Homo sapiens: one gene and its partners. The protein of the gene in region 3 purifies or fractionates together with the protein of the main gene of each other region. This does not show direct contact. Each region holds a gene or a part of one and is shown on either strand. Other genes may lie near its edges.

What was found. Proteins that work in one complex are often made in the same cells at the same time.
Region 1: the proteins of ITGA5 (region 3) and TVP23B fractionate together in Homo sapiens (co-fractionation; one large-scale study listed by BioGRID). This does not show direct contact.
Region 2: the proteins of ITGA5 (region 3) and FGFR2 purify together in Homo sapiens (affinity purification with western blotting; one study listed by BioGRID). This does not show direct contact.
Region 4: the proteins of ITGA5 (region 3) and LOXL2 purify together in Homo sapiens (affinity purification with western blotting, with the first as the bait; one study listed by BioGRID). This does not show direct contact.

Annotation. Positions count from the first base shown.
Region 1 is NC_000017.11:18,790,961-18,794,868, reverse strand, and holds part of TVP23B (Golgi apparatus membrane protein TVP23 homolog B), read right to left. Parts: coding exon 3,829-3,908; intron 1-3,828.
Region 2 is NC_000010.11:121,483,259-121,487,166, forward strand, and holds part of FGFR2 (fibroblast growth factor receptor 2 isoform 1 precursor), read right to left. Parts: intron 2,275-3,908; coding exon 2,137-2,274; intron 546-2,136; coding exon 440-545; intron 1-439. UniProt on the Homo sapiens protein: Tyrosine-protein kinase that acts as a cell-surface receptor for fibroblast growth factors and plays an essential role in the regulation of cell proliferation, differentiation, migration and apoptosis, and in the regulation of embryonic development.
Region 3 is NC_000012.12:54,398,427-54,402,334, forward strand, and holds part of ITGA5 (integrin alpha-5 precursor), read right to left. Parts: intron 3,905-3,908; coding exon 3,754-3,904; intron 3,668-3,753; coding exon 3,575-3,667; intron 3,430-3,574; coding exon 3,350-3,429; intron 3,240-3,349; coding exon 3,159-3,239; intron 3,053-3,158; coding exon 2,947-3,052; intron 2,570-2,946; coding exon 2,420-2,569; intron 1,522-2,419; coding exon 1,438-1,521; intron 1,333-1,437; coding exon 1,219-1,332; intron 273-1,218; coding exon 171-272; intron 1-170.
Region 4 is NC_000008.11:23,365,935-23,369,842, reverse strand, and holds part of LOXL2 (lysyl oxidase homolog 2 precursor), read left to right. Parts: intron 1-1,408; 5' UTR 1,409-1,491; coding exon 1,492-1,846; intron 1,847-3,717; exon of another isoform or gene 3,718-3,908. UniProt on the Homo sapiens protein: Mediates the post-translational oxidative deamination of lysine residues on target proteins leading to the formation of deaminated lysine (allysine).

The sequences.
Region 1 (3,908 bases), on a different chromosome or scaffold from region 3:
GCACTCCTTAGGAAGGGAATACAGGAGAAGAAAAGGAAGAGTCTTATGAGACCAAAATTCCTATGGGAGAGATGCTAAGTAAAAAAAAAAAAAAGAGCTGGCAAGGGAGACCTAAACCAGAGGTCTCTTCTATAGGTATTTTCAAAGAATGCTCTCAGAATACTTTCAAACTCTTCTGTGTTCCCATTTTCTAACTCTTTATTTCCTGCTTTTATCTTTATTAGTTTATTTTCCTGATTTCTCACGCTTATTGCTTGTTTTTGAAATTTCTGGACTCAAGTAGTCCATTATTTTCCCTCTTTCTTGTCTAAAATAAAAGGCTTTAGTCTATTATTTTCCCTCTGAATTCAGTTTTTGACATATTCAGAAAGTTTAACTGTAAATGATCACCATTAAGGTATAAATAACCTATATTTACAGTTTTTGCTTCCTTTTAAACCCAAGATATGTAGTAGTTCGCTTTTTAAAAAGAATTCCAATTTCGACAACTACTTTCTATTAATTTCTAGTTCTGTTTCATTGGAGTAGAAAATGTAGGTGCTTTGGGCAATTTTATTTTGATTTTCTTCACAGTGATATTTAGTCAATTTTTGTAAATGCCCCACAGGCATTTAACAAGAAAGTATTCTGTCATACAAAGTCCCAAATACTGCTATCAAATTGATGTTGCCAATTATTTCATTCAGATCCTTCAGAACTTATTTATTTTTTGGCACTTTGGTTTGTTAAAGATAGTAGTTTGTTAAACTCATCATAATGCTTTTCTATTTTCTAATATTTCCAATTTTTTTACTATACATAGTTTGATATAATTTTACTCTGTGAATGATCTTCACTGTGATTCATAAAATCACCTTTTTCTGTTCCTCTTAGTGCTTTCTTACTCTGATCCATATCTCATCTGATAATAATACAATGCCAAGTTTCTTTTTGTTTGAGTTGATCTGATGTTATCTTTGCCTTCTTTTATTTTTTCTAATGTCATTAATGTTGTTAGATCTTTTGTTTGGACTTTGATTTCTGACCAATCTTAGTATTCTTGTCTTTAAATGGGTAGTTTAATCAAATTACATTTCCTATTATAATGAATTTGCTATTACTTACATCACTTTATACATGTACTTTCTGATTTAAGCTTCCTTGACAGTTGCTTTGTTTTCCTTCTTTTGCTCTATGAACTGTTTTACTTGCTCCATCTTCTCCAATGTTGCAGAAGATACACGACTGGTTTTAAATTTTACTAATAGTTGCCATTATTTTTTTTTTTTTTTTTGAGATGGAGTCTTGCTCTGTTGCCCAGGCTAGAGTGCAGTGGCGCAATCTCGGCTCACTGCAAGCTCCGCCTCCTGCCTCAGCCTCCTGAATAGCTGGGACTACAGGCACCTGCCACCACGCCCGGCTCATTTTTTTTTTTTTTTTTTTTTTAGCAGAGATGGGGTTTCACCATGTTAGCCAGGATGGTCTCGATCTCCTGACCTCATGATCCACCCGCCTCAGCCTCCCAAAGTGCTGGGATTATAGGTGTGAGCCACCGCGCCCAGCCATAGTTGCCATTAAATTTTTAAAACCATTATTTAACCTTTTTTACTCAATTTGTCAGAGTGAAGAATAAAATAAAAACCAATATAAGCTTTAGCATTTAAGCATACCTTTAAATTATTTTCCCTTCTCTACCTCTTCTTTATCTTCATTAACATCACCTAGGGCAAGCCTATCCAACCCTCTGCCCACAGGCCTCATGCTGCCCAGGACAGCTTTGAATGCGGCCCAGGAGAAATTTGTAAACTTTCTTAAAACATTATGAGATTTTTTTGTGTGCGATTTTTTTTTTAAGCTCATCAGCTAATGTTAGTGTATTTTATGTGTGGCCCAAGATAATTCTTTCTTCCACTGTGGCCCAGGGAAACCAAAAGATTGGACACCTAGGGGTTTAGATGAAGATTGATTTTTTGTTTTTTTAGTAAGTACATTGAGATTTATAACAATTACGACACATCTCTATTTTAACTGTTTCAGAACCCTGCTTATCCCAAGTCCACTTAATAATTTCCCTATTCTTGACTTCTTAATTTTGCTTTATATCTCCATTGCTTTGCTATCTATAAGTAGTTTTGCCAAGGATAAAAGGGTGCCATTTTTTAAGCCCTTGTTTAAAAACAAAAATAAACAAATAAACCTTATCAGAAAATAAACTATTTTGATCGCATTTTTTAAAACTCTAAACCCAGAAAAATTTTAAGAGTTTGGAAATTACCAGGAAGAACTGACTGGAAAGCATGTTCTATTTGGCTGAACAGAAATTTTATGAACAACAAAAAGAAACGTGTATCAAAACTGTGAGCAGTATGTACTAAATACTTTGGAGCATAAAGTAACAGAAGAAATTCAAAGAAATGCAAGCCAAAGAAGACTGGACAACAGAAAAACCTAAAGAAAACAGACCTTTGAAATCTTCCTTCTCAGCATTATGCGGCCTATGGAAACTGGCCATCACCAAGCCAACCACTTCAGGTATCTTTAAGAATTAAAAGATGGCCAGGCGCAGTGGCTCACGCCTGTAATCCCAGCACTTTGGGAGGCTGAGGTGGGCAGATCCCTTGAGGTCAGAAGTTCGAGACCAGCCTGACCAACATGGAGAAACCCCGTCTGTACTAAAAATACAAAAAAATTAGCCAGGCGTGGTGGTGCATGCCTGTAATCCCAGCTACTCGGGAGTCTGAGGCAGGAGAATCACCTGAACCCAGGAGGCAGAGGTTGCGGTGAGCCAAGATCATGCCATTGCACTCCAGCCTGGGCAACAAAAGTGAAACTCCGTCTCAAAAAAAAAAGAATTAAAAGATCTAAAAATGGCTACATTGGTGGGTGTGAATAGGGTTGTAACATCTTACTAGTCTTTGAATCAGTATGTGTCTCTGAAACTCCAAAATCAGCCTTTGATTTTTTTCTCCACTATTTTACTATATTTTCGAACACACACAGTTAAATTTTACAGTGAATACCCAAATATCTATCATCTAGAGTCCATATTTAATATTTTATTATGCTTACTTATCTATTTATTATGTACCTATCTATCCATCCATCCATCTCTCTAATCATTGTTCTTGAGTTTGAAACCATTTCTTACACTTCTTTCTATCCCCTACAGCAGGGTGTCTCAACCTTGGCACAACTGACATTTTGGGTCAGGTAGTTCTTTGTTGCAGAGGGGCCGTCCTGTGTGTTAGGATATTTAGCAGCATACCTGCCCTCTAGCCACTAGATGTCAATAGCACACTCCTCCCACCTCCAGTCATGACAACCAAAAACATTTTTGGACACTGACAAATATTCAGTGGGTGGCAAGCTTGTCTCTGGTTGAGAAACACTGCCTTAAAGCATCCATAGGAGCCTTTTCAAAAGGTAGGTATTTTTTAGGTATTTGTGGACAAACTACACTGGGGCCTTATCTAGAAATTATATACAACACACCTACAGGTAAGCCTGAAGCAAAACCCATGGTATGGATTAGAAGCAACATTGTAGGGTCTATGGTTGCTAGTCACTTTTGTTTGTTTATTTGACTTTAAAGCTGATGTAGGTTAGAATATGGCACAGAAAAATCAGCAGCACAGTAACCTGCATGTCTCATCTTGTATTGTCAAAGGGAAAAAATGAAAAAAAAAAAAAAAAAAAAAAAAACTACATGCAATTTGATATATCTAGCACTTCAACACAGATGAGGTTTGAAGTAACAAAAGATTAACAATAATGCAAAATGCTAACTCATATTTTTATACATCATTTTCATATTAAATATAATTTTAAAATAAAAACAATCAAAATTACCTTCACTGCCCAAAAGTCACACGACAACAACAAGATAATTGTCACCATACAGGTAATAAAGCTGCTGCTGAGCAACCCAC
Region 2 (3,908 bases), on a different chromosome or scaffold from region 3:
GGTGTTAGAAAACTTCATTGTATTCCATCAAGCAAATGATGACGAACATTATCAGTTTACCCACTAATGACCAAAGCACAGAATCAAACTTGCACAGGAATCCAAGCTTTTTCCCATGCACACCAAAATGCAAGTGAATACTGCTTCCCCTTTCCCACTCTCCCACATACCCCGGACTGCTCCACCAGCAGCTACACTGAAGGCAGCCTCGGGGATGTCCCTCTGTCTTTGGTTTCATGAGTCAGAACTCACAAAATGAAGTTCTGAGAAAAATCATGATTTGAGAGGAACCCATAGTTGAACTATCTGACCCTATGGAAAAAGAATAAACAAGACCACAGACTCCAACCAACAGCCAACAGGGGAGTGTGTGTGTAAAACACTACGCATGTCTCACAAGACAACCAAGGACAAGGGGCTTCTAGAAGGAAGTTCTTACCTCATTGGTTGTGAGAGTGAGAATTCGATCCAAGTCTTCTACCAACTGCTTGAACGTTGGTCTCTGGGAGGGCACTGCATGCCAACAGTCCCTCATCATCATGTACCTGGGAAAAATGGATTTCCTTGAATTAATTTCATATGCACTGGGTACGTGGTTATAGTCAGTTTTAATAGGCAATATGGGGACGTGGTGTAAATTAGGAAAATGCATCAGAACCTTCCAAGCAACTAGATTAGGGGGTCATGAATCACTTTCCCAAAAGCTTCCCTGCCAGTTCCTCCGAAAGGCACTTTGACTTACAAAAACATGTTAGAAAGGCATCGAAGCCATCAAGAAAGACACAGCTATGTGTTTTCCCTGGTAACCCTGGGCCACAGTGACATCTCACAATGGCGTCACACCCTAAAGATGCTTTGGAGGCTGAAGGAAAATGCGTATTTCCATGGGCTGGTCTCCAGTCTTCCCTCCCCTGACACCCTGCCCAGCACCAAAGCAGCTCCACTATTTATCTGCCCGGTGCTTTGGGTCTTAATGATTCTAGTTGACACAGCTTCCTGAGTTAAAAAAAAATTAAATAAAATTTGAAAACTACAACTTCAAGTTTTTGATGAATTAATCTGCCACCACTGGGCTGCACACTAACTTCCTGATTAACTCTTAGATAGGCTTAGCTTCCCAGGTCTTATCTTGATTTTGGGTTTCGACAGATCCTCTACGTTACAAAAGAAAAAAAACAATAGGAATGACAAAGAGCACAATAAATGCCTTTATATAATATGCTATAAAATGTGGCCATTCATCAGACATCCACGGTACACCGAAAAGCACTCACGGGATTACTGATATAAAATCCCCATGAAATGATACACAATAGACCGCAGTTTCTGGGACAATCACTCTTCTTAGTTAATCCTGGAGGGGTTGAGGCAGGAGGCAGAGAGACTCCTTTCAAAGCACTGATTCTATTGCACCAGGCACACGTCACAAACACAACATAACTCCACTTAAAGTGTGAGGCAGGTTTTGCTACAAACCAGTTCATGGTTTTACAGGCAGATCTGGTACAGTAAGGAGGGCGCCTGGACACATGTTTAATTCTCTGCACTAAAACACAAGTGAGACCTAGGTAACCAAACACGAGTTCCTTCGCTCTGAGGAAATGTGGTTGGCGTCAATCTGTAATGGCAATTTTCAATGGTTCGAGAAGTTCTGGAAACACCGATTCTCTACTGGCCACGATGGGGCCAGGCGGGGGCCAGGCACAACCACCAGGGAAAGGCTGTGTTGGTTCCTTAATCCTACACCCTGCAGGGCGGCCCCGCGGCTTTCTAGCTTGTTTCCTGACCCGTGGGTCTTCCTGTCACTCCACGGGAGACCGCAGAAGGTGCAGCACAGTGGCCCAGGAAGACCACTCCTGCTGGCTCTGCAAAGTCAGGAGCCCTCAGCCAGGCAGCCAGACACCCTCTGATCCAAAGCCCTCTCCATACTCAGAATAATGTTCTTTCTCTCAGACAAGTAATGGTTGTCGGTGTCGCTATGTATCCCAGCTCTGGATTGAGCCCAGAGAGCTTCAGCCATTCTTCTTAGAGCATGTTTAGGAAACCAGGGGCCTTCAAAAACGAGATACATCAGGAGAGGTATTACTGGTGTGGCAAGTCCACTGGGGCACCGGCAGGAAAGACAACAGCCCTTACAGTTCGTTGGTGCAGTTGGCTGGCTTATCCATTCTGTGTCCTTCCTTCAGCAGCTTAAAAAGTTCCTCCACGGGAATCCCTGGGTAGGGCGAGCCCCCTAAAGTGAAGATCTCCCACATTAACACCCCGAAGGACCAGCTGCAACAAAAGGAGAAAGCACGGCATTACTAACCCATCCACGTTGCCAAAACCTAAACACGCCCAGCTGAGACATAAACACCTCCTCACTTCTGAAGTTCAAAGACAAATGGGCCCTCCTGCAGTTCCTCCTATGTGCTCTTTCCTGCCCTGCAAGAGCATCCCCGAATGATGATGACACGGGGATGTGCTGATGGAATTTTCCATCAATAGACAAAAAGGCAAACTGCCATCACTCTGGAATAGAGCTGCTTGTCTTAAATGTGGTGTTAGCAATGCAAGGATCTCAGTTTCTCAGTTTCAAAGCCTTTACGCTCCTTTCCAACTCCTTATGTGCCTGACCCAAGGGTTGTGATCTACCAGGATGGGCAGTTGACAGAATAAGGCCAGCAAGCCAACTCCGCAGGATCACAGCTGCCCTGTGTGGCTGGCGGAACATCTGCTGCACAGAGGCTCTGGAACTTACTAAGATCGCAAAGGCAATCAGCACTGGGCTGGGGTTAGGATGAGGAATCACATGCCCCAGATGAGTTGCACACAACAAAACTGAACACATCTCACAGGCCATAATTTATTTACACTTGACTCTTCAGAGATTTGGACTTCCTGTGCCAAGTTCAGGAGGCTCAATCTCTGGGAGGAGCAAGCTGAGAGAGCCAGGTTTAGCTACATCATGGTCGTTCTGGAAACTCAACCTTCTGTACTCGATGGTGGTGTTTCACTCCGCAGTTTTCTACAGAGCAAAAGCAGCAGCACAGGACAGGCAGAACAGCCTCTGTGCCTCAGTTGCTCACAGCAAAAATGGGATAGTCATGTCTTTTTTTTAGGATTGTTGAGAGGACCAACTATGGTAGCACAGAATTAATGCCTACCCAGAACTCCTCCTGCTCATACAAATAAAAAATAGTTCAAGTGATTTTTTTTTCCCCAGACAGAGTCTCGCTCTGTTGCCAGGCTGGAGTGCAGTGGCACAATCTCAGCTCACTGCAACCTCTGACTCCCAGGTTCAAGCGATTCTCCTGCCTCAGCCTCCCAAGTAGTGGAGATTACAGACACGCATAACTACGCCCAGCTAATTTTTGTAGTTTTAGTAGAGACGGGGTTTCACCATGTTGGCCAGGATGGCCTTGATCTCCTGACCTCGTGATCCACCCGCCTTGCCCTCCCAAAGTGCTGGGATTGATTACAGGTATGAGTCACTGCACACAGCCTTCAACTGAATTTTCAAATCTAAAATATCAGTTGGAGCCTGACCCCACTGGTTTTGTCAGTATATCATAATAGAAATATTCTACTGTGTTTCTAGAATGCTATCAAGGATGCCAAAGCAAGATCAGACCTTTTTGTTGAGGGATAAACATAGAGAGTAGACCCTGTGGAGGTCCCCAGCCTGGACCACATCTCACTCAGCTCCACTCTTTAAGGACAAATCTGGGTTAGAGGGAAATATGACAAACTACTCGTAAGTGGGAAAAGCTCCAGGATTACTCCTTTAATGGAGTGAAGAACATGCCAAGAGCTTGGCGAATTAGATAACCGCTTTGTAGTTGCACATCCATGAATATGTTCAAGGGAAGGACTTCCGCTCTGGCAGGGGGAGGTCAGCAGTTCCACCTTCTGTGCTCTTTGAAGCC
Region 3 (3,908 bases):
ATGTTGATCTTGCTTACCACTCTGTCTCTGGCATCTGCACAGTGCTTGGCACATAGTACATTCTCAACAGTTGTTAACAATACCAAGGCCAGCCCTCACCCAAGTCCCAGCCCTGTTCCAGCACTCTGAGCCCTGTATTCCCTCATCCAGTCCTCTGGCCCTAGACTCACCTGACGCTCTTTTTGGGGCAGCTGCCGAGGCAGGATTCGGTAGGGCATCTTCAGGGCTTTGTACACAGCCTCACACTGCAGGCTAAATGGCTGGTGCTCCCGCTGTGGGTAGGGGAAAGTTGGTTAGCACATCCTCTCTTGGGATCCAGAGGACATAGGGTTCCCCATCGTCTGGCTGGGGTTGTGATCTTTCCCTATTTTGGGCTCATTCTTCCTGAGTCTCTCTCTCTCTCTCTCTCTTTTTTTTTTTTTTTTTTTTTTGAGACTAGGTCTCACTCTGTCCCCCAGGCTGGAGTGCAGTGGTGTGGGCTTAGGTCACTGCAACCTCCACCTCCTGGGCTCAAGCAATCCTCCTGCCTCAGCCTCCCAAGTAGCTGAGACTACAGGCATGTGCCATCATGCCCAGCTAATTTTTGTTTTGTTTTGTTTTTGTAGAAGTGGAGTTTTGCCATGTTGCCCAGGCTGGTCTCAAACTTCTGGGCTCAAGGGATCCGCCAACCTTGGCCTCCCAAAGTGCTGGGATTACTGGTGTGAGCCACTGTGCCTGGCCCGTGAGCTTCTCTTGATGTTCCTTATATGAGATAATAAATGTGTAACTGAATAATTGTAACTTGATAATATATAATTAGATGACTACGTGTTCAATAAAAATTTTTTTAAAATTATTAATGTGCTTTGACACCAGGACAGTGCCTAGCCTGCAGTGTGTGCTCAAGAAGTGACTGCTCTTTACTATTCCTACATGTGTTTACCTCTCCACTATGGATTCATCTTCCATCTTACTGTTTTTCTATCATTCTTTGCACACTGGTCTCCCTCCAGCCCTCCCTCCTCTGAATGGGCCAGGAAAGGGAAGCTGCTGCTCCCACTGTGGCCACTAGATGGCGCCAAGGACATACAGCCTGGTCTAGACAAGGGCAAGGAAGGGGAGCTGGAGTGCTGGGTCCCATTCACCAAAGGAGAGGTGGCTACTGCAGTGGAGAAAGGGGTGGGTCAGTCTAAGCAGGCCCAAAGGTCAGGGGTCAGGGCTGAGGTAAGGCTCCCTCACCTGCAAGAAAGTCTTGGCCCAGACTCGGAAATGCAACTGCAGACTTTGGCTCTCTTGTTGGTGCAGGGGCCCGAGCTCACAGCGCAGCCTGAAACACTCAGCCTCCGGGCATTTCTAGGAAGAAAGAAGCTTGAACCTGGTGTTCTGCCCTTGTGATGGCCCTGAGAACCCCAGAGTACTCAACACTTTGGTCCACACCTCATTCCCTGCCTGACTTACCAGGATCTGAGGTCCCGAGGAAGCAGAGCTGCGGCTTGGAGCTTCCCGTTTTTGCTGGTGGTGCAGGGAACCCTCGGGATCCAACTATAAAAGAAAGTGTTGGGCCCCTTTCCCATCTCATTACAGCTTCTAAGTCAGCTTGCACCTGGGTTCCAGAGCAGCTTCAACCTATTCTTTCATCTATCTCTTTATTGATTCATCCAACTGTCCACCTCCTATGCGCAAGGCACTGAGCTCAGGGTTAAAATATGGAAATGAGGAAAACTTGGTTCTTGGAGATCACACTGGAGGAGATGCTTAAGTAAATAATTAGGTCTGTGTTCCTGTTTTTGCACTGGATGTTCCCTTGGTTTGGAATGCTCATCCCTGAGTCTTATAGACAGGTTCAACCTTATCTTTCAGGCCTCAGTTCAGCTGTGACGTCTTCAAGAGGTTTTTCTATGATCCAATTTAAATAGTGTCCCTACAGCTTATTAACTCTTCACTTCATCACCTTTCAATCCCTGTTAATTTTTCTCCTTCTCTTTTTCTTTTCTATGTCTATCACCCTTCACTAGAATGTAAGTTCCATGAACGTGGAGACCTTGTCAGTTCTGTTTGGTGCAATATTTCCTGGGCCTAACAGTGTTCAGTACAGTCACTTATTTAATTAGATGTTAATGAGTAAATGAACTATAAAACAGGCATTCGGGCCCAGAGGAAAAGGTTTGAAGAAGGCTTCCTAGAGGAGGTGGCACATAACTGGGCCCTAGGGGTATGCCGGGAAACAAAGAAGGGATAGTTCAGGCAGAAAGAAACACAGTGGATGAAAGTCCTTTTTCCTCCAGAGGATTTTGAGGTAACTTTGGGCCTTGTGACCCTCAACCCTAGCTATAGGCACATCCTCATTGCCTCTTGCAGGCCCCCAGCAACCTTCCCCAACCCCTCAGCCTTGGTCCTCTGAATCTGCTCCTCTTCCCCATGCCAGTGTTCAGGATCTCACCTCCAGGCCCTTTGGGTTAATGGGGTGATTGGTGGTGCAGTTGAGTCCCGTAACTCTGGTCACATATAGGAGCTGCTGACCTTCCAGAGCCTGGGGACAGCTGAGTTCCAGCACACCCTGGCTAATGGAGCTGGGGCCTTGGTTGATGAGCTGAGGAGGGAAGAGCACAATCATCATGAGAAGGAAGGGAATGCTTCTGCCCCATTGAGACCCTGGATCACCATGGCTCCACTATACCCTGCTGTCAGGCTCCTATCTCAGAGATGAAGCAGGGAAGCAATGGGCAGAGGTGAAATCCTCTCTAGCCAACACTTTTGGAGGGGGCTCCATCTTTCTTTCCAAGCCACTCAATTGGCCTGTCTCTCCTCTGGCTGTTTCTCACAGGACTCTGCCTCATGCCTTTGCATATCACTTACTCCTCCCTCCTCTCTTTCTCTCAGTCCCTCACATGGGTTCCAGCCATCTGTCACTCATATTAGCTCCTCCTTTCCCATCATTCATTCTGGCCCTGCCCCTTCCCCCCTTACCTCATAGACATGGTGGACAGCAGGTCCCAGGTCCTCCTCCTTCTGAGGCTGGTCTCGGGGATGCCAGTCGCTTACTGGGAATAGCACTGCCTCAGGCTTGGAGACACTAAGGAGGAGGGTGGTTTAGAGGAGGGTGGAAGGAACCCCATATGCATCCTTCCCTAGAAGTCTGTGTCCCCTCTCAGAAAGACCCCATTTTGCCTGGCACTGACCCGTTCAGGGTGACCTGGGCCTGAGCCTCCACGGAGAGCCGAAAGGAAACCACGTCGCTTTGCGAGTTGTTGAGATTCTTGCTGTGGGATGGAGGCAAGACTGAGGTGCTGGAGTGCAGCCAGTGAGAATGGCGCCCAGCCCTCCCTTCCGTCCCCAGCTCAGCCCCAGCCTAGACACACTCACTCCCTACCTGAGGATCTGGAAGTCAAACTGGATGGTTTTCTTAGTGTCCCGGAGATGAGGGACTGTAAACCGAAGGCCACCCCACAGCTGGGGACAGAAAAAGAGGAAAAGAGGGCAGTTAGACTGTGTATTTCACCCTCCCTCCGCACCTCACAGCTGTGCTCTCGGCTGGCTGGTTACCGCCCTCAGGTCTGCTCTCCCTCTGTCCCATCCTCTTTCATCCCAAACTTACACTGGCTCCTGCCTTCATGGGGTTGCCCAGGTCACACACCAGCAGGCGGCTCTGGTTCACGGCAAAGTAGTCACAGCTCAGGCTGGAGAAGTTCTGGAGATGGGGTGGGCACTGGTCAGGTTTTGGTGTCCCCTCTAGAGGGGTATCCTCCCAAATCCCACTCGAGAGTCTCATCTCACCCCTGGGTGTCTGACGAGTCCTGAGTACTCAGCCTCTGGAGGGGCGGTGACCCGAAGCTCAGCCTCATAGGCGCCACCCTCACCCACATTCTGGGCATGGAAAGTGAGGTTCAGGGCATTCTTGTCACCCAGGTACACATGGTTCTGCTCCCTGG
Region 4 (3,908 bases), on a different chromosome or scaffold from region 3:
CTTCAGAGCCACACTACTAGGGGGTCAGGCTGTGCGTTGGTCCGTTGGTCAGGAGCTATCACAGGAACCCTCCATCACTTTCTGGCCTTGTTTGTTAGTCACAGGATGAGCATGGCTGGCTCTCCGGTGACATCAGAAAGCTTTCCAAAATCCTCAGTTCTGACTGTCCCCCAGGCTCTAACATCTCCACCCCAGCATCCTCTTCGGGGCACTGAGCACTGCTGGTCACCCAACAGACATGGAACTGCCTCACTCCAAGGCAGATCATCCCTCCATGGGCAGCTCTGGACAGCTCTGACTACAGGAAAGTTAGCCAGTCCTTCCTCAAAGGTAGTGTGCCATGACCAGAAGAATATGATTAGCCTACTCCTCTGCATAGGGTTAAAATAAAATACCTTATGCCCCCACCTAAGCTTCCACCTGCTCATCCTGGTTTGGGGCCCTGCATGTTTCTCCACAAGACACACGTGTGCTCCTTTTAAAATCGTCTCCTCTTTTCTCTGAATTACGGGAGGACCAAGATACACGAGGTCTCTTGCTACATGATTTCACTCGGGAATTCTTAGAGGTAGGCTCCACCAGATACGATGACCAGGACCTTGAGGATTTTAAAACTCATTTAGCATTGCAGCCCTCAAAGCTGACGGGAAAATTATAATTCATCTAGCAAATGTTCCTGTAGTGTTTTGGGGTGCCATTCATTTAATGGAGGGTGGGTGTGTTGAACATCCTGCCCTCACCCCTTCAGACCCGCTCCTTCTCCACCGGCCCCCATGTTCCAGGAGGCTGTCCCACACGGGCTCCCTCAATGGGCTCAGCTCCCTTGCCAGTGGCTTCGAGTTGAAGGGGGCTGGGTTTGCCTAATAGGAGGCACCAGAATGATTCAAAGACGGGAGGAAAGGGAGTCAGGTATTTATTCTCCCTCCCATGTCCCCGCCGTTGCCATGGGTTGGCTCTGAGACCCTCCAGTGAGGGCCACAGCTCCTAAGAGACAGCTCCCTCTGCCAGTCTCCAGTTCTCACCCCCGCAGGCTCCCTTCAAGCCTAGGGTGGTCACAGCCCCCTCTGAGTCGCCAGCCCTAGGGTGTGACACCGGCCTTTGTTAGTTCTGCAGAACTCTGCCGGCATGTCCGTAGTCTTAAAAAACTCTCCTTAAATTAAGTTGGAGTGTGTTCTGTTCCCTGCCAGGAACTCTACTGGAAAAAGCATTCTAGAGAGATGACAAGGCAGTAGGTAAAGGAGGTGGGACCTCCCAGCCCTGCATGGTGGAAATGTAGGAGTGGGGCTGGATTGGCGTCGAGAATGGACGAGCTTTCCATATTAAGCCAAGGGGTATGAAATCGCTGGTTCTCTATGTAGGTCTCCGTAGCCCCACGTTCCCATCCTAACGCATCTCTCCTCTCTTCCAGAAAGCTCCTGCTGCTTCTGTACCCCGCCTGTCCCTCCCAGCTGCGCAGGGCCCCTTCGTGGGATCATCAGCCCGAAGACAGGGATGGAGAGGCCTCTGTGCTCCCACCTCTGCAGCTGCCTGGCTATGCTGGCCCTCCTGTCCCCCCTGAGCCTGGCACAGTATGACAGCTGGCCCCATTACCCCGAGTACTTCCAGCAACCGGCTCCTGAGTATCACCAGCCCCAGGCCCCCGCCAACGTGGCCAAGATTCAGCTGCGCCTGGCTGGGCAGAAGAGGAAGCACAGCGAGGGCCGGGTGGAGGTGTACTATGATGGCCAGTGGGGCACCGTGTGCGATGACGACTTCTCCATCCACGCTGCCCACGTCGTCTGCCGGGAGCTGGGCTACGTGGAGGCCAAGTCCTGGACTGCCAGCTCCTCCTACGGCAAGGGAGAAGGTAAACGCTCTGTGCTTTGGATCTGAGTGCTGTCACCTGGCAAGGCCCGGAGTGGCCTTCCCTGAGGTCAGCCTGGGAGAGGAGGCTGCACGCACTGCGAAGTGTAAATTCTTGGTGATGCCCATCCAGGGACTGGCATCCTTCTGTGCCCACTCAGGCTGCACCCTGCAGGAAGGCGGGGTCGGGGGGCTTGAGGAGGGGCACAGTAAGTGACCAACCATACTGATTTGCCCAAGACTTTCCTGGCTTTAGCACAGAAAGTCTCACATCCTGGGAAAACCTCAGGAAAACCAGGACAGTTGGTGACCCCAGGTAGGGGGTGAAATCGGCCTGTGCTCCTCTCTCCGCCCCATATGCCCTGCCTGGGGGCTGCGTCAGCCCAGAGGAAGTTGCGCTTTACTCCAAATCGTTCCCTGTTAGGAAAGCCTCTTGCTCTTCCTCACAATGGCTCCCACATGCTGGAGCTCCCTGACGCCCCCCACCTTCCTGGCATGTGGAGTTCATCGTTTTCACACTAACCTGCTATTGTGGGCTTGGTCACAATAGGCACACAGATGCTTTGGGTTTTTCACCGTTGGTTAGCCTATTCTTTCCTCCCTTGTGAGGTTCAAATTTATTAGTTTATTTTTAAAAATTGTTTTAAGAGCTGGCCAGGCGCAGTGGCTCATACCTGTAATCCCAGCACTTTGGGAGACGGAGGCGGGATGATCACTTGAGGTCAGGAGTTCGAGACCAGCCTGGCCAACATGGGGAAACCCCATCTCTACTAAAAATACAAAAATTAGCCGGGCATGGTGGCGAGTGTCTGTAGTCCCAGCTACTCAGGAGGCTAAGGCACAAAAATCGCTTGAACCCGGGAGGCGGAGGCTGCAGTGAGCCGTGATCGCGCCACTGCACTCCAGCCTGGGTGACAGAGCGAGACTCCATCTCAAAAAAACAAAAAACAAAACAAAAACCCAAAAAATTGCTTTAACAGCTTTGAGGCAGGACAAAGTTTGAAGCCCTGAACCTAGAGCTCAGTCTGTACTGACCTCTGACACCACACTTTGTAGGAAGACGCATGTCCTCTCCAGCCTCATTTTCCCCATCTGGAAGTTGGGCTAAGAACCCCTGAAACCCTGACAGTGTATGTTCCCAAATAGGAAAGAGATAAGGGTGGAGGGAATTGTTTCTTTTTAAACATTTTTCCAGGAGCTAAGAGTTTCCTATCTCTGGGTCAGCCAGGCAAAGGAAGCTCCCACACCCTCCCGCCCGGCTGAGCTGCAGCCCAGACCTCAGCACAAGTCTGGCTACTGGACTAAAGCAGAGCTGCCTATACTCCTGTCCTGGACTAAAGGGCTAATGCCATGCTGACTGCGTAAGAATCGCCCAAGGGAGCTTAAAAGTACAGAATAGCGCAGACCTCAACCCACCATAATCTAGTTTAAAAGGTCTGGGCTGGAGCCCAGGACTCTGTCTCTTTTGGAAGTCTGCAAAGTGACAGGTTTGGGAGTCATTGAAATTGATAACTGTTATCCTCCCTTCCAACTTTTCTGTTATTCTAGAAATTATAGGAGAAAGGAAGTCCCATCTCATACACATCTCACCTCCATGCAATTGAAAATTTCCTTTTGGGGTAACTGGATCAGGAGACAGCACAGAGTCAAATGTTCTCTGCAGCTTGCTCTGGGCGATGAGAGCCACAGCAGTGAAGTTAGCAAATGCTGGGCTTTAGAACCCACTTCCTGTCTTCTTTAAACAAACGTCCGATACTTCCACATCTCTGTTTATCCGGCTGGCTGAGCGATCCAGGGGTAACCTCAGATTCATGTTTTCCATTCCAGGCTTTCCAACGCTCATTATTTTATAACAAATGCTTTCCAGTGACTGGGTATTTTTCCAGTGACAACTTAATTTTATTTCAACCTCAATTTAAAACACCTGTTGTCAGACAAGGGGGTTGTGGTTTTTCCCTATCAGGAGCAGGCACGGGGTAGTAGGAGACAGGTTTTTACCCAGGTGGGACTTTGCCATCCAAGCGTGGTGAAGAGTGAAAAGTTCCAAGGAGTGGAGGGAATATGAA